Homo sapiens: one gene and its partners. The protein of the gene in region 1 purifies or fractionates together with the protein of each later gene. This does not show direct contact. Each region holds a gene or a part of one and is shown in the gene's direction. Other genes may lie near its edges.

Evidence for each region.
Region 2: the proteins of ADD2 (region 1) and NUDT12 purify together in Homo sapiens (affinity purification with mass spectrometry; 2 studies listed by BioGRID and IntAct, with this or other methods). This does not show direct contact.
Region 3: the proteins of ADD2 (region 1) and ROCK2 purify together in Homo sapiens (affinity purification with mass spectrometry; 2 studies listed by BioGRID and IntAct, with this or other methods). This does not show direct contact.

The regions. Positions count from the first base shown.
Region 1 is NC_000002.12:70,655,977-70,660,530, reverse strand, and holds the end of ADD2 (beta-adducin), read left to right. Parts: 3' UTR 1-3,747; downstream 3,748-4,554. UniProt on the Homo sapiens protein: Membrane-cytoskeleton-associated protein that promotes the assembly of the spectrin-actin network. Binds to the erythrocyte membrane receptor SLC2A1/GLUT1 and may therefore provide a link between the spectrin cytoskeleton to the plasma membrane.
Region 2 is NC_000005.10:103,548,216-103,553,287, reverse strand, and holds the end of NUDT12 (NAD-capped RNA hydrolase NUDT12), read left to right. Parts: intron 1-871; coding exon 872-1,071; intron 1,072-2,316; coding exon 2,317-2,427; 3' UTR 2,428-4,433; downstream 4,434-5,072. UniProt on the Homo sapiens protein: mRNA decapping enzyme that specifically removes the nicotinamide adenine dinucleotide (NAD) cap from a subset of mRNAs by hydrolyzing the diphosphate linkage to produce nicotinamide mononucleotide (NMN) and 5' monophosphate mRNA.
Region 3 is NC_000002.12:11,341,300-11,349,105, reverse strand, and holds the start of ROCK2 (rho-associated protein kinase 2), read left to right. Parts: upstream 1-4,469; 5' UTR 4,470-4,969; coding exon 4,970-5,110; intron 5,111-7,806. UniProt on the Homo sapiens protein: Protein kinase which is a key regulator of actin cytoskeleton and cell polarity.

The DNA.
Region 1 (4,554 bases):
GAGTCATGATCAGAATTGCATTTTAGGAAAATCCCTTTGGTGGCTGAATGGAGACTGTGGACTGGATGGGCGTGGGATGGTGGCATGGGAGCTATGAGGCCTTTTTGAAATGTCAATACTAAAACATAGTTGATGGCCTGCTTTACACGATGTTTCCTCTACAGCAGATAGTGAGTTTCCAACACAAAATTTATTTCCATAAAAGTCTTTGGATAAAGCACCTTAAGAGGGATTTTCAACAAGGAGAGGGGAGCATTCAAAGAGCTAATGTTTCCAGTTTTATTTTGTCTTGGTGTAGAATTGCTGGGAGAGGTGTCCAGCCATCCTGCCATTTCTTCTTCCCTTGCACAGAATGTGGCACATTTAGCTCCAGGCTTGAGGACATGCACCAAATGCTACAGAAACAGACATGTGGTCCAAACAAATCTACAGGCTATTAGAAAGGAAAGGCCATTTTCTTTGGCTGTGGATAAAAGTTGGCTGAAAACTTTGACCAATATCTGACTGGAGAAAATGTGTATTCAAGAGCTCAGATTTGGTGGGCAGTAGGTTCATGTCTGGTTGAGCTACTGTGCTTGGATGTGCCAGAGAAAAGGGTAACATTTGAACCAATGTGCTGCTCTGTGGCTGGCTGAGCTGGGAAGTGGAGAGGTTTCTGAGCTTATTTCCATCGCAAGGCAGGCAGGAGGAGAGAGGACAAGAAGGATTAGTGGTTTCGCAGAGACAGGCTTGGCTCCAACGGCTCCTTGCGTAGTGTTGGCTGCACCCAACAGTGGTGTGAGAGAACCGTCCATACCATGTGACCTTCCTCCCAAACTGCAGAAAGAGACACCTTCTAGCCCAGATCTGGACTCCCTAAGAGCCTCCTGGCCTGCATGCAACCCAAGTAACTGTCCTACTTTGGCCAGTTGACCCCCTCCACTCTCCTATAACTAAAACAGGGTTCTTCCTCTGTGAACAGATAAGTTCTTTTTAAAGGACTTGGGGGAAATTGGATGAAGAGCAGTAAGTTCTTACAGTAAGAACCCCACTGTAAAGCACTGCCCTCTGCCACTGATCCATGTAGACTGAATTTGAATCCCATTCCCTGTGGATGATACCGTCACTTGCTCATGGTGACATGGCAAGACAGTCATTCAGATGTTTGGCATTGTTGTAGCAGGGCTACTGCTAGTGTGGGGGAAAATGCTATAAATCCACTTCTTTGATTGCCATGGATTTGAAAGAACCATTTGCCCAACAGCATGATTCGCCTCTGAAAGTCTAAAAATAATTTTCAATTTTTCCATGAAGGTATGTGGAGGGTAAACACACAGCCTACGCATAGGTCTGCATGACATGTTTTTTCTTTTTCTTTCTTTTTTTTTTTTTTTTTTTTTTTTTTTAGACGGAGCTTTGCTCTTTGTTGCCCAGGCTGGAGTGCAGTGGTGCAATCTTAGCTCACTGCAACCTCTGCCTCCCGGTTTTTCAAGCGATTCTTCTGTCTCAGCCTCCCAAGTAGCTGGAATTACAGGAGCCCGCCACCTTGCCCAGCTAATTTTTGTATTTTTAGTAGAGACGGGGTTTCACCATGTTGGCCAGGCTGGTCTTGAACTCCTGACCTCGTGATCCACCTGCCTCGGCTTCCCAAAGTGCTGGGATTACAGGAATGAGCCACTGTGCCAGCTGACACGTTTTTTCTTTTGTGTGAATTTTATGTTCTAGTTTTGGGACAAGGGTAATCAGTTCTTGACTAGTGAACAAATGAGAGAACATTTACCCCTTACTCATTTTACACATGCAGGTCAGCAGAAGCCCTAGAGTTGGTTGGCACAGTCGCAGTTGACTGAGCATAGAGGAAACAGGTCTTTTTACATTCTCTCTCATCACTGGAGCTCAGTTGAACTCTAAGACCTTAGCACTCAAAGAGTCTGAAAAGAAATGAGGGAGAGGCTAAATTTAAGCTCTCCACTCCCACAGAAAGGACAGGGCACCCTACAATCTAAAAGCCAGTGAGGCAGCCTATCATCTGTTTCACATCTGTTCTGAAAGGGATAGTTTAATGCAAGAAGTAAGAGGCCTGTAGTGACTGTAAACTCATGAAATGTGCACATTGGTTATCTGTGCACATTTCCACTTGCACCATAACATAAGAAAGCGTACATGGAGTGTAATTACTTCCAGAAGCCCCGTCTAACCAACCTATTCAGATGTGGCACACTTTCTGTCATAAATGAGAGACCACACGTAGAGCTCGGTCACCAAGGAATGCCCAACATCCCTTTACCTCTCACAATGAGCAGCCACGCTCACCGGGAAGCAGTGTGGGGACTTCAGTGGGGTGTCCCTTAGTGGAGAACACCTTTCATCATTTTTATAGAGACAATTCCCTTGAGAATGTAGGCTTTTCATCTTAGGAACAATTAGGAAGAATCTCCAGCTGGGAGTGTTCTTATGTATACAGAAACAATGGGTCGCATTGGTTCATACTTAGGTGATATTAGGTTTGGCTATATTGATGTTTGGTGCCACTTACCTTCTAGATTTTCCCAAAAGTTGGGTCATTGCTATGGGAAATTGGGGCCTGCAGATGGGGGAGAAATGATCATTATTGGTGCAGGGAAGGGGTTCAGGCAGAGCTGGAGTCTGAGGCTCAGTGTGAGAAAGCACTGGCAGTTTTCTAGTAGAGTCAGGTCCTGGGCTCCTCTCCTCACCCACTGTGTCCCGAACTGAGGCCAGCTGTGATCGGCAAATTGCTTATCTCTAGGTAGTTTAAAGAAAACGTAAGAGTTTGGGGGGTGGTGGGAGAATAACTGTAGAAAGACCCTAAACTCTTCTCTCCCCCAGCAAATTATCTTGTATAATGTTTAAAAACCCAAAGGCCAGATCTCCCCTTTTAACGTGAATCAGAAGGAGGATGGCAATTGGACCAAGGGCAGAGTGGCCACACTTGAAACACATTATAAAATGGGAATATATTTCAGGGAACCCCACCCCCACACTTCCACTCCACCTCACACCTGTTGGTCCTGCTTTGTGGGTGATTGATTGATACCCAAGGACTGCCCCACCTTTAAATTCCTGCAATTTATGCTGCAACCAACATCTTAGTGTTTGCTCTCTCCGGGAAGAGGCCAGGTGGGGGAGAACATACGGTCCAGAGCCTGAGATCGCCTGGCTGGGGTGCAGGCAAGCAGGAACCCAGTCTAGATAGAATGCAGTGTTCTCTAAAGCTATGGATGGTTTCAGTGAAATGTCTGTGTCTGACAATCGTCACGCAAGAGTACTTACTGTCTTCCCTTGTACATACATTGTCTGTGTTTAGCTTTTCCTAGTATTGTGAGGTTTCAAATAGGGGTTCCATGTAAATACTCTTTCTGCTACTGAAATGCCGGCCCCCTTGAGTATGCATCACCCCCACAGATGGTTTTGCCTTTCTCTATGCTAACACTTTTTGAGCCACTGACGTGCAGATCGGTGGTTAGTTTCTTGGGCTTTTATTTTGCAATTTTATATATATACACATATTATATATATATATATATTTATGGGTTGGTTTTGTATAGTTTTCTGTTTGAATCTCTGAGCACCAAAGCTGCCCTTTGATTTTCACGAGAACTTTCCAAAGCCACTTCCTGAGCCCTCCTGCTGCTTTGGTGTCTGACGGTGATGCTGCGGTGGCATCTCTGCCCGTGAATTTCTGTATGTGTGTGCTGTTACCTCACCTGCAGACATGACCCTAGTAAATCTAACGTGCTTGGCTTCCCAGTGTGTGTGCCCCATCTCTGTCGGCTCCTCAGCTCTCCTGGCTCCCAGGGGAGAAGTCAGAAAGGGGGCCCTGTGGAAACATGGACCACGCAAGAAAATTGTACCCTTGAGGCCATTTCTCACACACGGAAAGCTGAACATGTGTCTACTTGTGTTCTGATTTGGGAAGGGCGGTTATAAAATACTAGACTCTCCTGAAAAGGAAATGGCCATGTGGATTTGAAACAGCTCTGTGGAGGAAGCTCAGTTTAGGTGGGTTGGGATAGGGGAGGAGCATTGCACAAACACACATGTGGACGGCCCTGCAGGGCAGCAGCAGCGGCAGATCTATAGGCTGGAATGGAAGAGGGTGTCAGGCCAGAGTGAGAATCTTGGAGAGGGCTAAGAAGTCACCCCAAGGGGTGAAAGGAGAATGGAGAGACTAGGTGGGGAAAAAGGAAGAGAGAAAAGAGGAAAGAGAGCCTTTGGCTCCTCTTTATTCAAAAACTACTGTGGAAGCTCAGTATTCCTTGAGTATCCACACATATGTGGCAGGTGTTGTTTAAGTATCTCATGCATCGCACCCACTGAGCCCCCATAAAACCCAGAGGGTGATTCTGTTATTACTACTTACTTTACAGATGAAGTAAGGAGACTTTTCTTGGGCCACAGGTTAATATGTGGTAAAGCCCAAGTTCAGCTAAGGTCTTGTAGGTAACCAAGCCCTGGCTCTTTCCACTGCTGCTCACTGCCGGGTGCCCTGAGCACAAGAGCAGTCCCCGTCATTACTCTCAGGCCCACTGTTATGGGCACGTCTGCTTTCCACAG
Region 2 (5,072 bases), on another chromosome or scaffold:
TTTTAAGAATTCTTAAATATGTAGCATATGCTAATCTTTTGTTAGTTATGGTTTTGCAAATACCTTACACTAGTCTATAATTATATTTTTACTATATGTGTTCTTTTGATTATTATAAGTTAATTTTCATGTAGGAAATTTATCAATCTATTTGAAATAGAAAGCTATATTTAAAATATATTTTGCTAAATACAGCAATATTTAGCAAAATGTTTCTAAACTTCCAGATTTTACTTAGAAATGATTTTACTTAGAAACAATTTCCCCTATTCTAATTCTTAATTCCAACAAATTAGAAATATAAAGTACATTTATAGGCATCACTTACCATAGCAGAGTCAGCAGTCATCTAGAGGAAAATAATTGCTTAGAAAAAGTATTAAATTTCATCTTATGTAGTTTGTAATCTTGTAATGACCTGAAAAGAGTTACCTGCAATAATTGTTTGACAACATAATAAAAAAAAGTTTCAGAATTTTAGTGTGAAAGAGCTATTTGTAAAAATCATGTAATTTATAACTATTTCGTGGACAATATATACATGAGATAAGATATAAAGTGTTTGCATAGTGTTTAACCAGTATTAGGTATTGGATATTTTTAGATGGTATCATTATTTTTAAAATGTAACTGACAAATTTGTACCTTAAAAAAACGAAAAGTTTATTGTTGGCATTTTGATATTCTATATGTGGTCATGTACTTTAAAAAAATTGTTTTCTTCAATTACAGTCTAGTTTTAGGCTTCTGCTTTCTGATTATTTGCATTGGGTTTCTGTCCAAAGTGATTTCCAGATGTTTGAACCATTCAGGACACAAAGTGTCCCGGGCATGTTCATCAGCAACTTGTTCTTTTGCTCCATTTCATTAGGAGAGACAATAGAAGATGCTGTTAGGAGAGAAGTAGAAGAGGAAAGTGGAGTCAAAGTTGGCCATGTTCAGTATGTTGCTTGTCAACCATGGCCAATGCCTTCCTCCTTAATGATTGGTTGCTTAGCTCTAGCAGTGTCTACAGAAATTAAAGTTGACAAGAATGAAATAGAGGATGCCCGCTGGTTCACTAGAGAACAGGTAAAGTTCAATTTAATTTCCTTCTTCTATTGATTGTTCCCTGACTGTATTGGTTTGGTCACAGAGCAAGGATGCATATTTTCAGCAAGTTGAATGATGCCTTTGGCCCTCTCATTATGCATGGATTACATGGTAATTAGTAATTCCATACAGGAGGAGTATGTTTCACTAATGTGATCTATATTAACTTATTCTATGAGATTTTTCTAGTAGAGATGATTCTGTACCATTTCGAGTTTCAGATTCCATTCCTTCACATAAATAATAATACCTATCAGTGGGTTTAGAAAAACATTAATTCATAGATGAGAAACAGGAATATTCTTATACATTTTATATTTTAGTTTATAACATTAAAACAAGTAGCTCTCAAAAAACATCAGTAAGTGCTTAAAATTTTCAGAAAGTTTTTATTCATTTTAAAATGTACTTAAGGACAAGAATGACATAACTGTATAATAAACATACACTTAAAATAACTTTCTAAAATGTCATTCCTAAATAATATATTAAAAGATAAATTACTCATCTGACCTGAAATTCTTTCTGACTTTGCCTGCATAAAATTAATTTTATTCTATGCTTAATCCTAAAAGATGGAAATTAGATTATTGCTTATGAATTTTATAAAAAAGAATCTGTTTCAAAAGTTGGCTTTGCTTAGAAATTAAGTGTGGAGCGTACATTTTGCTTTTTCGTGATGTCATTTTCATAAGGGAATGTGTCTTTCTGGAACATTTTAGAAACTGAATCACTTACTCAGTGAAGCAATTAAAAATGCTGTCCTAAATTTTGCATGTTGAGGCGGGGCGTGGTGGCTTATACCTGTAATCCCAGAACTTTGGAAGGCCAAGGCAGGAAGCTTGATTGAGCCCAGGAGTTTGAGACTAGCCTGGGCAACATAGGGAGACCCTGTCTCTACAGATAATTTTTAAAAAGTTAGCCAGGTGCACCTATGGTACCAGCTACTTGGGAGGCTGTGGCAGGAGGATCGCCTGAGCCCAGGAAGTCAAAGCTGCAATGAGCCATGATCCCACCACTGCAACTCCAGTCTGGGTGGCAGAGTGCAAGACCTTGTTTCCAAAAAAAAAAAAACTTTGCATGTAAATATGGATGTTGTCACTTTCTACTGTTGTTATTCACTGTAAAACTCATCACATTTTAATTGAATTATGTAAACATGGGAATAGTATTTAAATATGACAGCTTTGAAATCCTAATGCATTCTATTATGGTGTGTTTTAGGTCCTGGATGTTCTGACCAAAGGGAAGCAGCAGGCATTCTTTGTGCCACCAAGCCGAGCTATTGCACATCAATTAATCAAACACTGGATTAGAATAAATCCTAATCTCTAAATCTAAGAACTAAGCTTTGAGTATTATTTAATAATTTCTAATAACACTCATTCCTCAAGTGATATTAGAGATTATTCAGTACTCTTGAGAGTGTCACAACACAAAATACGATGTTGGGTTTTCGAAATATTTTCAAAGTGTTCTGTCTTAATCACAAATTCATATTTTTACACATTTTTACAATATTGCCTCAGATTATGTTAAATTTGGGTCAGTCTTCTCTGAACTTTTTCTCTCTTGGTTTCTTTTCTTCCTTCACAGTTTTATCTCACAAAACCATTTTTCTAATAAGAGACATCATGTTGGAAAGATGTTCTAGAAATGTGCATAAATTTCAGTGCCTCTTGTAAGCATTAAACTGATGATGAAGAAAGTTCCTGATTTGAGAAATGAATCAAAGTAATTTTAATGAATTTTTAGCTTGTATTAGCTTGAGTTAGCTGGCATTGATTTTTTAGTCCTTTTGTTACCTTTAAGTTGTCAATATATGGTTTTTGTTCATCTCCCCATTGTAGTCCCACTTGCTCTTTCCTGGGGGTTCCATTGTTCTAGCAGTGGAGGTGTTATAGTGTCGCCACTCGTCTAATTTGACCAGTGTTAAGAATTTTCTAATTTAATAATTTAATAGTGATCTCAATACCACACCCTCATGGAAGGAGAAAAGCATACTATTATATCTGGGACCTCTCTTTTAGACCTAAAATTAATTAACATATCTACTTATATGTTACTTATACCTAAAGCTGTTATTAAGACAAACCAAGATTCTCTGCTTTTGCACTGAAATTAAACTTGAAAGGAATTCTCCTCAAAGGTCGGATATTAAATAAGTCCCAGGCAGATTTACATATTTAATTTAAAACATTGGCTTTATTTCATTTTGTGATGAGTGATGTATCTGTGTTAACAAAAAATTGTATAATCATTACCAATACTATTTATTATGCTCAAATATATCTTGGCTTTGACCTTATTTCAACACATTCTAAGAAGCCTTGACAAAGTAAGTATATTTTAGAGCTGAATCAGTAAGATTCTAGAGAAAGCAAAACATAGTAGTTCACAATTTTGCAACATAGAAAGTCACATTTTGAAAGGCTATTTTGAAATTGATTTAATAGCTATTATAGTTTATGAATATCAAAATTTGTATAATTTGCATCTTTACTAATGTATGCTAGAGCTACAAGAGACCTTAAGGATAATATATGAAATTAGCTTTCCTTATTTTATAGATAAGGAAAAAGAAATTGTGAAAGGTGAATTTACCTAATTAGTGAAAGTTACATAACTAATTACAACAGTCTGTACTATATAATGCAGAGGACGATTCTCCCTGTAAAAGGAACTAGAAGCTATTACTAAAAATATATATAGACAAAATTAAAAGAAGGAATGATAAGAATAAATTTAATTTACCAAATATTGTTAATTAAAATTTTAGATACTTAACATTTATTTAACTTAAATAAAAGATAACTGTCAGATAAAACTTTATTTTACTAATGAGCAGTGATTTTCTTAGGAATTGATGAAGGCTTATTGGTATCAAGAATTTAAACCAAATTAAAACTGACAGAGGACATTTAGATACATAATAAAATTCGAGCTACATAAGTATATGGAAAATAATGTACCTTGATTATTATGAAATAGAGCATCTTGAAATTCAGTTTTACTCTAAATGTACTTTTAATACTTGCAGATTCTAAGATTACATTGTAAAATTCCAGGTTTTCATAATGTTAAAATAGGAAAGTAGAATATAAAGTATCAACAAGTGTAGTTATACATTTTGTTTTGGATATTTAATCCTTACTTGGGAAAAAATCAGCATCTAGGTAAATTATTATTTTAATAACAACTCTTAAATTGCCAACCTCTGAGAGGTGAAAAGCTATGTAAATAGAAGGAATGGCCAGTTCAAAAGAATAGTAGATGTGATAGTGCCGTGAATGTATTCTACTGGAAATGAATGTAATAATACATTAAATTTTTAAAATCTATTTTGTTTTGTGTGTGTGTTTAACATGTTTTGACAAGTGTCCTGAAAAATGAGAAAAGCTGGATTTCAGTCGTTAACCTGTTTCGAATTGATAATGTACAAGAAATGCAAAAGCCTTTTTAAAAGTGTCTGTGTTTGGGAGACTTAAAACTTTGATTTGAATCTTAAAGTATAGTTTGGGGTCAAATACAAACAGACTTACATATATACATACATATATAAAGTCAATAATTTTTGTTCTTCAGGTTTAAAGCGATATATCTAATTTTTATTACTTGTCTAATACTGCTAATTGTTGGATTTTGATATTTTCACATGTTGATGGAACATGAAGAGTTAGAAGCCCACATATTTTATTTAGTTGGAAAAATGAGAAATTCTTTTAAAGACCCAGTTAGGGATTTGGCTGAAGACAGAAAATAATAGGATAACAAAGGGAGAGACCAAGATGGAAGGAGGAAGAATAAGTTTGTTAATAAGCCAAATTAATCCCACATAACAACAATAGATAGCTGGTCCTGGAACTGTGTTGCTAATGTGGATACAACAAAATATTAGGTGAAGATGTTCTATAAAACAAATCCATTAATTATTTAGAGTAAAATTTTCACAGTGAAAATTTTATTAGGGCTGAGACCCA
Region 3 (7,806 bases), about 59 Mb from region 1:
ATTCATTTATTCACTCCATGTGCATATATATGAGTCCTCATTACATCACCTGTAAAATGGGCATAGTAATATTACCGTAAGCAAAAGGCTGTTTCAAGAATTAAGATAATCTCTATAAAGCGTGCTGCCTAGCACATAGTTAGTCCTTAAAATAATAGTTATAATTAAAAGAGTAATTACAAAAGCCACATGGTCAAAAGACAAAAATGGTCCTTTTCCAGCACTAGCTATGGGTGGAGAGGGTAAAGTTGCATCTGAAAGGTGAATTAATTCTTGAGGAAGAGGCAGATTCCTCAAATAAAAAACTGAAACTTGAGGAGATGGATCTCAGAGAAAAGAAGGAGGCCTGGACCCTCAGTCTGGGTGAGGAAGCATCAGGAGGGCTAGGAAGGCATTGCTGGGTAGTGGATGTCAAATAGACCATTGGGAATGAAGAGACAGAGAAAAGAAATTCATATGAAACGGAGTGGAGTTTCTAAGTTCTGCAGAGCAAGCTATGAACAGTTATGGTGCAATCCAAGCCTTATCCATTGATAGGCCAGCCTGGTTAAATGCCCTGTATTTTCCGTGTTTATTTTTCCATTGTTCTTCCTTACTATTGAACAAAAGTTTCTGTCCAAGTTCCTGCCTGTCTCAACTGTGCTCAGGACACACTGGGGACTCTGTTAGAAAGGAGCAGTCAACCCTGGCCCGAGTCGCGTGGCAACAGGAGTCACAGCAGGAGTTCCCTTGGAGACCAGCAAGCCCAGGGAACCCCCTTCCACAGCTAATTTGGGATGAGCTGAGCTGAGAATATTAGGAAACTGCCATTTCCTCATAACCTGTTGCAATTCCAGTATTCTGTGTGACCTAAAAACTGGGTTGGAAATCCTCCTTAACACAGATACAGAACCCAGAAGCTGTAGAGGACAATATCAACCGATTTGACCGCATAACAGGTAAAAAACAAAACTGAATGACAAGCAACAGACTGGAAAAAAATCTTCACAAACTGTAACATATTTTAATATATTCTATTATAATATAACAAAAAGGAATATCCAAAATACATAAGGAGCTCTTATAAATAATAAAAAGAGACAAAACTAATGGATAAAAGATATAAACAGGTAATTGCAGAAGAAATAGATAGACAAAATGCCTATCTTCAGTAGTAATTAAGGGAATACAAGTCAGAACAAGATGGCGTTTTTTGCCCATTTTATTGACAACAATTAAAAATATAATATTGAATACTGGGAAAGGTGAAGGGACATGGGCAGTTTCTTCTACTCACGCTGAGAATGTAAACGGGTAGCGTCTTTTTAAAGGCCAGGTTGAGGCCCGGCTCTGTGACTCACCCCTGTAATCCCAGCACTTTGGGAGGCTGAGGTGAGTGGATCGCTTGAGCTCAGGACTTAGAGAACAGCCTGGGCAACAAGGCAAAATCCTGTCTCTACAAAAAATACAAAAATTAGCCAGGCATGGTGTTGTGTGCTTGCAGTTCCAGCTACTCAGGAGGCTGAAGTGGGAGGACTGCTGGAGCCCTAGAGGTGGAGGTTGCAGTGAGCCAAGATCTCTCGTGCCACTGCACTCCAGCCTGAAGGACAGAATGTAAACCTGCCTCCAATAAATAAATAAATAACAGGTTGGCAGCATCTGTATTTACAGTATGCCTACCCTTTGTTATGACAATTCCACTTTTAGGAATCTATACTATTCAAATATGAGGATACGAGGATGTCAATGGATCATTTTAACAGTGAGAAAATATTAATAATATCTAGCATTGATTGAGGGCCAGCACATTTCTAAGCACTTTATAACAAATATTGTGAGGACCCCGAGACACAGAGGAGTTAGGTAACTTGCTCAGGGTCACATGGCAAGTGTGTGTTTGGGGCAGGATTTTGGCAATTGTTTCTTAACCACTATGCTCTCGAATAGAGAATAATTACAGTGTGGCACATCCAAACTGGGGAGTAGAGGACAGCAGGTAAGCGGAATGAAGCAGATCTCTGCCTATAGACATGGACACGCCTCTAGGACATATTAGTAATGAAGGGAAAAAACCAAGTTGCCAAACACCATGATATGGTATAATTTCATGTCTGTGGGGAAAAGGTAACATGTATCTATAATACATATGTATGAGAATGGCCAAAGGCCTTGAGTGATATAAGAATGTATGTGGAAATATAGTCAGAACAGTAAATTTTAGATTATGTTCCATATATTTCTGGTTCGTTTGAACTTTTACAAGAATGCATTTGTGCATTACTTTTGAAAACAAGAATTGTTGTACTAACCTCCTCCTTACCCTTACCCCATCCTGCAAAAAGGTTTAACTCATATCAACAGATTCATTTTCTCTTCTTCCAGGTAGACAATGGGATAGGTCTTGGGTAAAAATCTTCTGTACCATGGCTTTTTCTGGTCTATATAAATAAGTATATGTAGAACATGCCCAGGATATATATCTTGTTGATCACTACTCTTAAAATAAGGTTTTCATGTTCGGTATTTGGACCATGGCTTCCTGTTATTCCACCAAGCTACATACAAATATACAACCAGTCAAAATTAATTTGGAAACTGAGAACCACAGTGTTTTTTTTTTTTTTTTTTTGAGACAATCTCACTCTGTTGCCCAGGCTGGAGTGCAGCGGTGTGATCACAGCTCACTGCAGCCTTGGCCTCCTGGGCTCAATGGAGGAGGCCTCCAACTCAGCCTCAGGGGGAGCTGGGACTACAGGCACAGGCCACCACGCCCCGCTAGACAGAGTGCTCCTTTTGCCTTGCATATTATTTTGTCATCAGAAAAATAATCCATAATCATAGATTATCTCATTATTTTGCTCCAATGCATAAGTGGGAGTGTCTAGCTCCCTCTGTTCTCCTGGTGGCCTCTGTGGAGGTCTGAATGAGTAGCTCAATACACAGACTTAAAGGACTCTCTGGATGTGAAGTCAGTGTTACTATCTGAAAGGGAAAAGCTGCATTGGATGGATCATCGGGGCCTCTTCCTGCATGAGTCCAGCTAGGGGTGGTTTTAACTAACCTAAAACCAAAGAAGAGGCTCCAACTAATCCAATGGTTTGGATCAAAATGCAACTTTTACAGGGCTGGGGCTTCACCCTATCTTCGGGTTTATCTCTGACATGCCAGGGAGACAGTTCTTAACATTCTTATTACTTAATGGATATCAGATTGTTGCTTTTCGGAGTGGTTTTTCCATTTTTTGAAATTTAATTTGTTCTTAAGTATCTTTACAGAAAAAAATCCCATTTATTTAAGAAGTACTGTATTCTCTGGTTCTTATAGCTGCTCATTTTACATAGTTTTAGTGTGTACAAACGATTTTTTTTGTTTCATTTATTTCTAATATACCTTCTCATGTACTTGCCAAAATTTCATGTTTGACACAGTCTGCATACCTGCCAGGATTCTTGCTGTTAATGTGAAGGCGCCTGTTTGGGTTACTCAATTGTTGGACAACTGGGCCCATTCCCAGGTTTTGGTCATCACGAACATTGTGAATAGCCCTGCTGTTAACATCTTTCTGCAAGTTCTCCCCCTTCTTCGCCCTTTGGATCATTTCCTTGGAAATGTACTTCCTTAAATGGGTTTACTGGGTCAAAGGGGCTCTATGAACGGTTTTATAGCTCTTGGCACATAATTTTCGGATTGCGCCCTGGGCGGATCTAAGCGATGGCACCGGCCGCCGAGAGGGCAGGAATGCGGCGGAACGGTCCCGATAACCACCCCTCTTCCGCCCCCCAAAAGGAGAAGACCCCGCGAAGGCCTGCGGCTGGAAAGCCTTTTTCCGGTGCTCTCCCGTTCTCTTGAAGTGGTTAGTGTCTAAGCCGGGCAGAAACGCTTTCAGGATCCCAGGCCCTCCTGCCCCAGGACTAGGATTCCACCCGCCTCCGCTAATTCGGAATCCCAGACACCCAGGGCCCCCTCTCAGGCTCGCCTCGAAACCCCCGGCCCTGCGGCCCCTCGCGGGCGCCGAGCTCGGTCGCTATTATTTGGGCGCGGGTGAGGCGAGGCCCGCATAGCTGCGCGCTGAGTCAGCGGGGGCCGCGGCGGGGGGCGCGGCCGGGCTCCCCCCCAGCGCACGGTGCGCTGGGCCCGGCGTCTGGGGTTCCGCCTCGGGGCCGCGGGGTAGTCCGCGGGGTCCGGCGGGAGGGGCAGGGGGCGCGCGGAAGGACCCGGCCTGGGTGCGTCTCCCCTCCCCCAGCAGGAGCTCGGCCGTGACCGCGCGCCCGGCTATTCGCCTCAGAGAACCTCGCCAGGGGGAGGAGGCGAGGGCGGGCGAGGAAGGGGCGCAGAGGAGAAAGCGGAGCGGGACAGACGCAGGAAGGGAAAGAAAGGGAGGAAGCGCGGTGCGCGGGGCGGGGCGGGGCGGAGCGCGCGCAGGGCCGGCGGGGACGCGCGCCGGCGGCTGCGGGCGGAGGGGCTTGTGGGTAGCGGCGGCGCGCGGCCGGAGACGGGCGGCCGCGCGGGAGTGTGTGCGCCGGGAGCTGGCTGAGGGACTGCAAGGCGGCCGGCGGCGACCATGGCAGCGGGCCGGCGGCGGCCGTAGTGGCCCAGGCCTGGGCTTCAGCCTCCCGGGGCCCCAGAGGGCGGGGCGGTCCGGGCCGCGGCGGTGGCGGCGCCACTTCCCTGCTCCCGCCCGAGGACTCCTGCGGGCACTCGCTGAGGACCAGCGGACCGGCGGCGCGAATCTGACTGAGGGGCGGGGACGCCGTCTGTTCCCCGCCGCTCCCGGCAGGGCCGGGCCGGGCTGGGCCGGGCTGGGCCGGGCGGGCCCCTGGGAGCAGCCCCCAGGCGGGGGACCGCCTTGGAGACCCGAAGCCGGAGCTAGAGGCAGGCGGTGGGCCCGGGTGGAGTCCCGGCCGGAGCTGGTGGTTCGGGGGCGGTGCTAGGCCCCGAGGCTGCGGGACCTGAGCGCGAGGAGCCTGAGTGCGGGTCCAGCGGTGGCGGCATGAGCCGGCCCCCGCCGACGGGGAAAATGCCCGGCGCCCCCGAGACCGCGCCGGGGGACGGGGCAGGCGCGAGCCGCCAGAGGAAGCTGGAGGCGCTGATCCGAGACCCTCGCTCCCCCATCAACGTGGAGAGCTTGCTGGTAGGTGGCCGGGGCCTGGGAGCTTGCTCGTTGCAGCTCACACCTCAGATCCCCTCTCCGCCCAGCCCTCCGTGCCCGTCCGCCCGTGGGGAGGGGGAGGTCTTGCCCCACCCCGCCCTGCTTCCGGCAGCCGGGGCCGGAGACCAAACGATTCTGTCACCGAGTTCCAAGAGTAGTGACCCGCCTTTGATTCCTCCCTCTACCTCCTGCTGGAGCCAGTGTCATCCCCGGCTGCTCCTTTCTTGCAGCACTGGGAGGAAAACACCCCTCTTCTCCTTCCGCCTGCCCACTCTGGGGAGGTGGGTGGAGGACTGGCCATGCTTCATACACCAGGTTAGCTGATTTGAAAGTGTCATGCTACGTGGGGACTTGGTGCGAGCGAGGGAGAAAGAAACCTGATGCTGTCCCTGTTGCGAGTACTCACTGGGGTACATGACAAAGAGCCGCCCTCACTCTCTCCTTTTAGTCTGAAATCTTGGAACACACAGCTAAAGTTTTGCTGTTTTCACTTGCGTTTGAGCATTCCATACTTGCTATTTAGTGCATTTTAATTGCTGTAAATTTAATTCCCTGAGATTATTGCGCCAGAGCCAAAAAATCAGTCTGAATTGTGGAGTGGAATAAATCTGTCCTCTTCATTGCGTCTCTTTCCTATAACGACCTTTGAAATCCAGATTAATAGCACCGTAAAGGCTGCTAATTGGCTCTTGGTTAAGAAAGGAGCATGTTTTACAAAATAGAAATGCACCGTAGAATGCTGGCTTATTTCTTATTTTTGTTAGGATAGATGATTGTATTTCGCAATTTGAGTAGTGTGCAGTGTAGATGCATTTATGGGAAAAGGGGGTGTGGACTTTTACCCTGGGGAGGGGAAGAAAGGTGAAAACGATACTCTGTGTATTAAATTGACTCTGGAAGACTAGAACTAGGGTGGGAGGTCCTTAGATCCGTTAGACATTCTGTGCTGGAATGCAGATGTTTAGTTCTATTCCCTCCTGGAATAAACCTTACTGTATGATGAGAAAAACTGCCTCCTCCCTTTCCAGGGACGGACGGACTGGCTTTTGGTCAGAGGCGGTTGGTTATCCTTTGAGGTTTCAGGCATCGTTTGCAGAGTGACTCAGTCCTGTTTGGTCAAAATGCAGGAACTGACTTTAGCTATATAGTGTCTTTCTGCACAGTGTACAGAAAGTAATGAATGATGTGCTATATTGTGTCACATGTGTTTGATGTTTTACTGTTTTTCGGGTTAATGTGTTGTTCCTATGTTTTAATGGGAGCAGTCTTTGAAAGTCTTTAATCGGGAGTAAGATTGCTTGCATGGATGGCATAGCTTTTCCTAGGCTAAAGCGGAGACTCTGGGCTGCACTCCCAGCATTTTCACTTTGGTATTTTGCTAGCAAAACTTTGACCTAAGGCCAGAAAGTTTAGTTAAAAATAGTACAGCAAATCTCAAGTATTCATCAGGTTCATGCTAAATCCTAGATGGAAACGTTTTGCAATTCACTTTGATATCTTAGATCTTTAATGATATTAATCATAATTATTAGAGTTATTCTGAGCTTGAATGTAAGTAGCTTATACATGTAATATGATCATGCATTTTGTTTTATTGCTTTCCAAATTATTAAAATGGAGGCTATTTTTAAAAGTGAAACATCTCACATGTTCAGGACACAGTTCATTCATTTAGCAGTTATTACAGCCAAAACACACTTTTATTAAGGTGGCACATTACGGATCTGAGAATTGACATCAGGTGCTGATGACTTGACAGACTCTGTTATTGCTGTTTCTAGTTGGTTAAATATGCTTGAGGTGCAGTAAACCTTTCCAAGCCAAAATGCGTCCCTTATTCCTTTGGAGCAAGGTTCCTGGTGTTTCTGTTACAAATTGATAAACGAAATTTAAAAATTTTTTTATAATAAATTAATTTTAAATTACGCGTATTTTATTTATGAACTACTAGAATGGATTTTTTATTGTGGTAGCGTATACAGAATTTACCATTTTTAACCATTTTTAAGTGTACAGGTTAGTGGCAGGCATTAAATACATTCACATTGTTGTGCAGCCATCACCACTATCCGTCTCTGGAATCTTTTCATTTTTCCAAACTGAAACTGTAAATTAATGTTTAAAAGAATGTTATAAAAATTATATTTCCTGAAATACTGACGAAATAATGGCTGGTATCACTTTAAAGATCTGAAACCTTAGCATTTAGGTTGCATTTCACTATTGGTCATTGTTTTACTGCCTATGACATTTATTTTTTGGTTTTGCCATGGGAAATACATATTTTGTCTTTAACAGAAAATTTAAAGGAATATAATTTAAAGCAAACACAGCTGCGACACTACATTCAGGAGCTCAGAAAGTACCATTAAAAATAGTATATACCTAAGATGACAAAAGAAGATGAAGTACACCAGAAATGATTGTATGATGCTTTCAGTGGGCTAGGCCTAGAAGGTAAAACTCTGTAGGAAACAAAGTTTTATGAGATAACGTGTAAAGTGCTTAGCCTAGTGCTTGGTACATCACAGTGCTCATTAAATTTAGTTCACTTCTCCTGTGCACACTTAGCATGTTATTAGTTAACTGCTTTAAATTTTCTTTTCAAAGGAAAATGGTTTTATTTGCAACTATTTCTTGCTACATAATTTTGAGTGAGTAGCATTATCATTTGAATT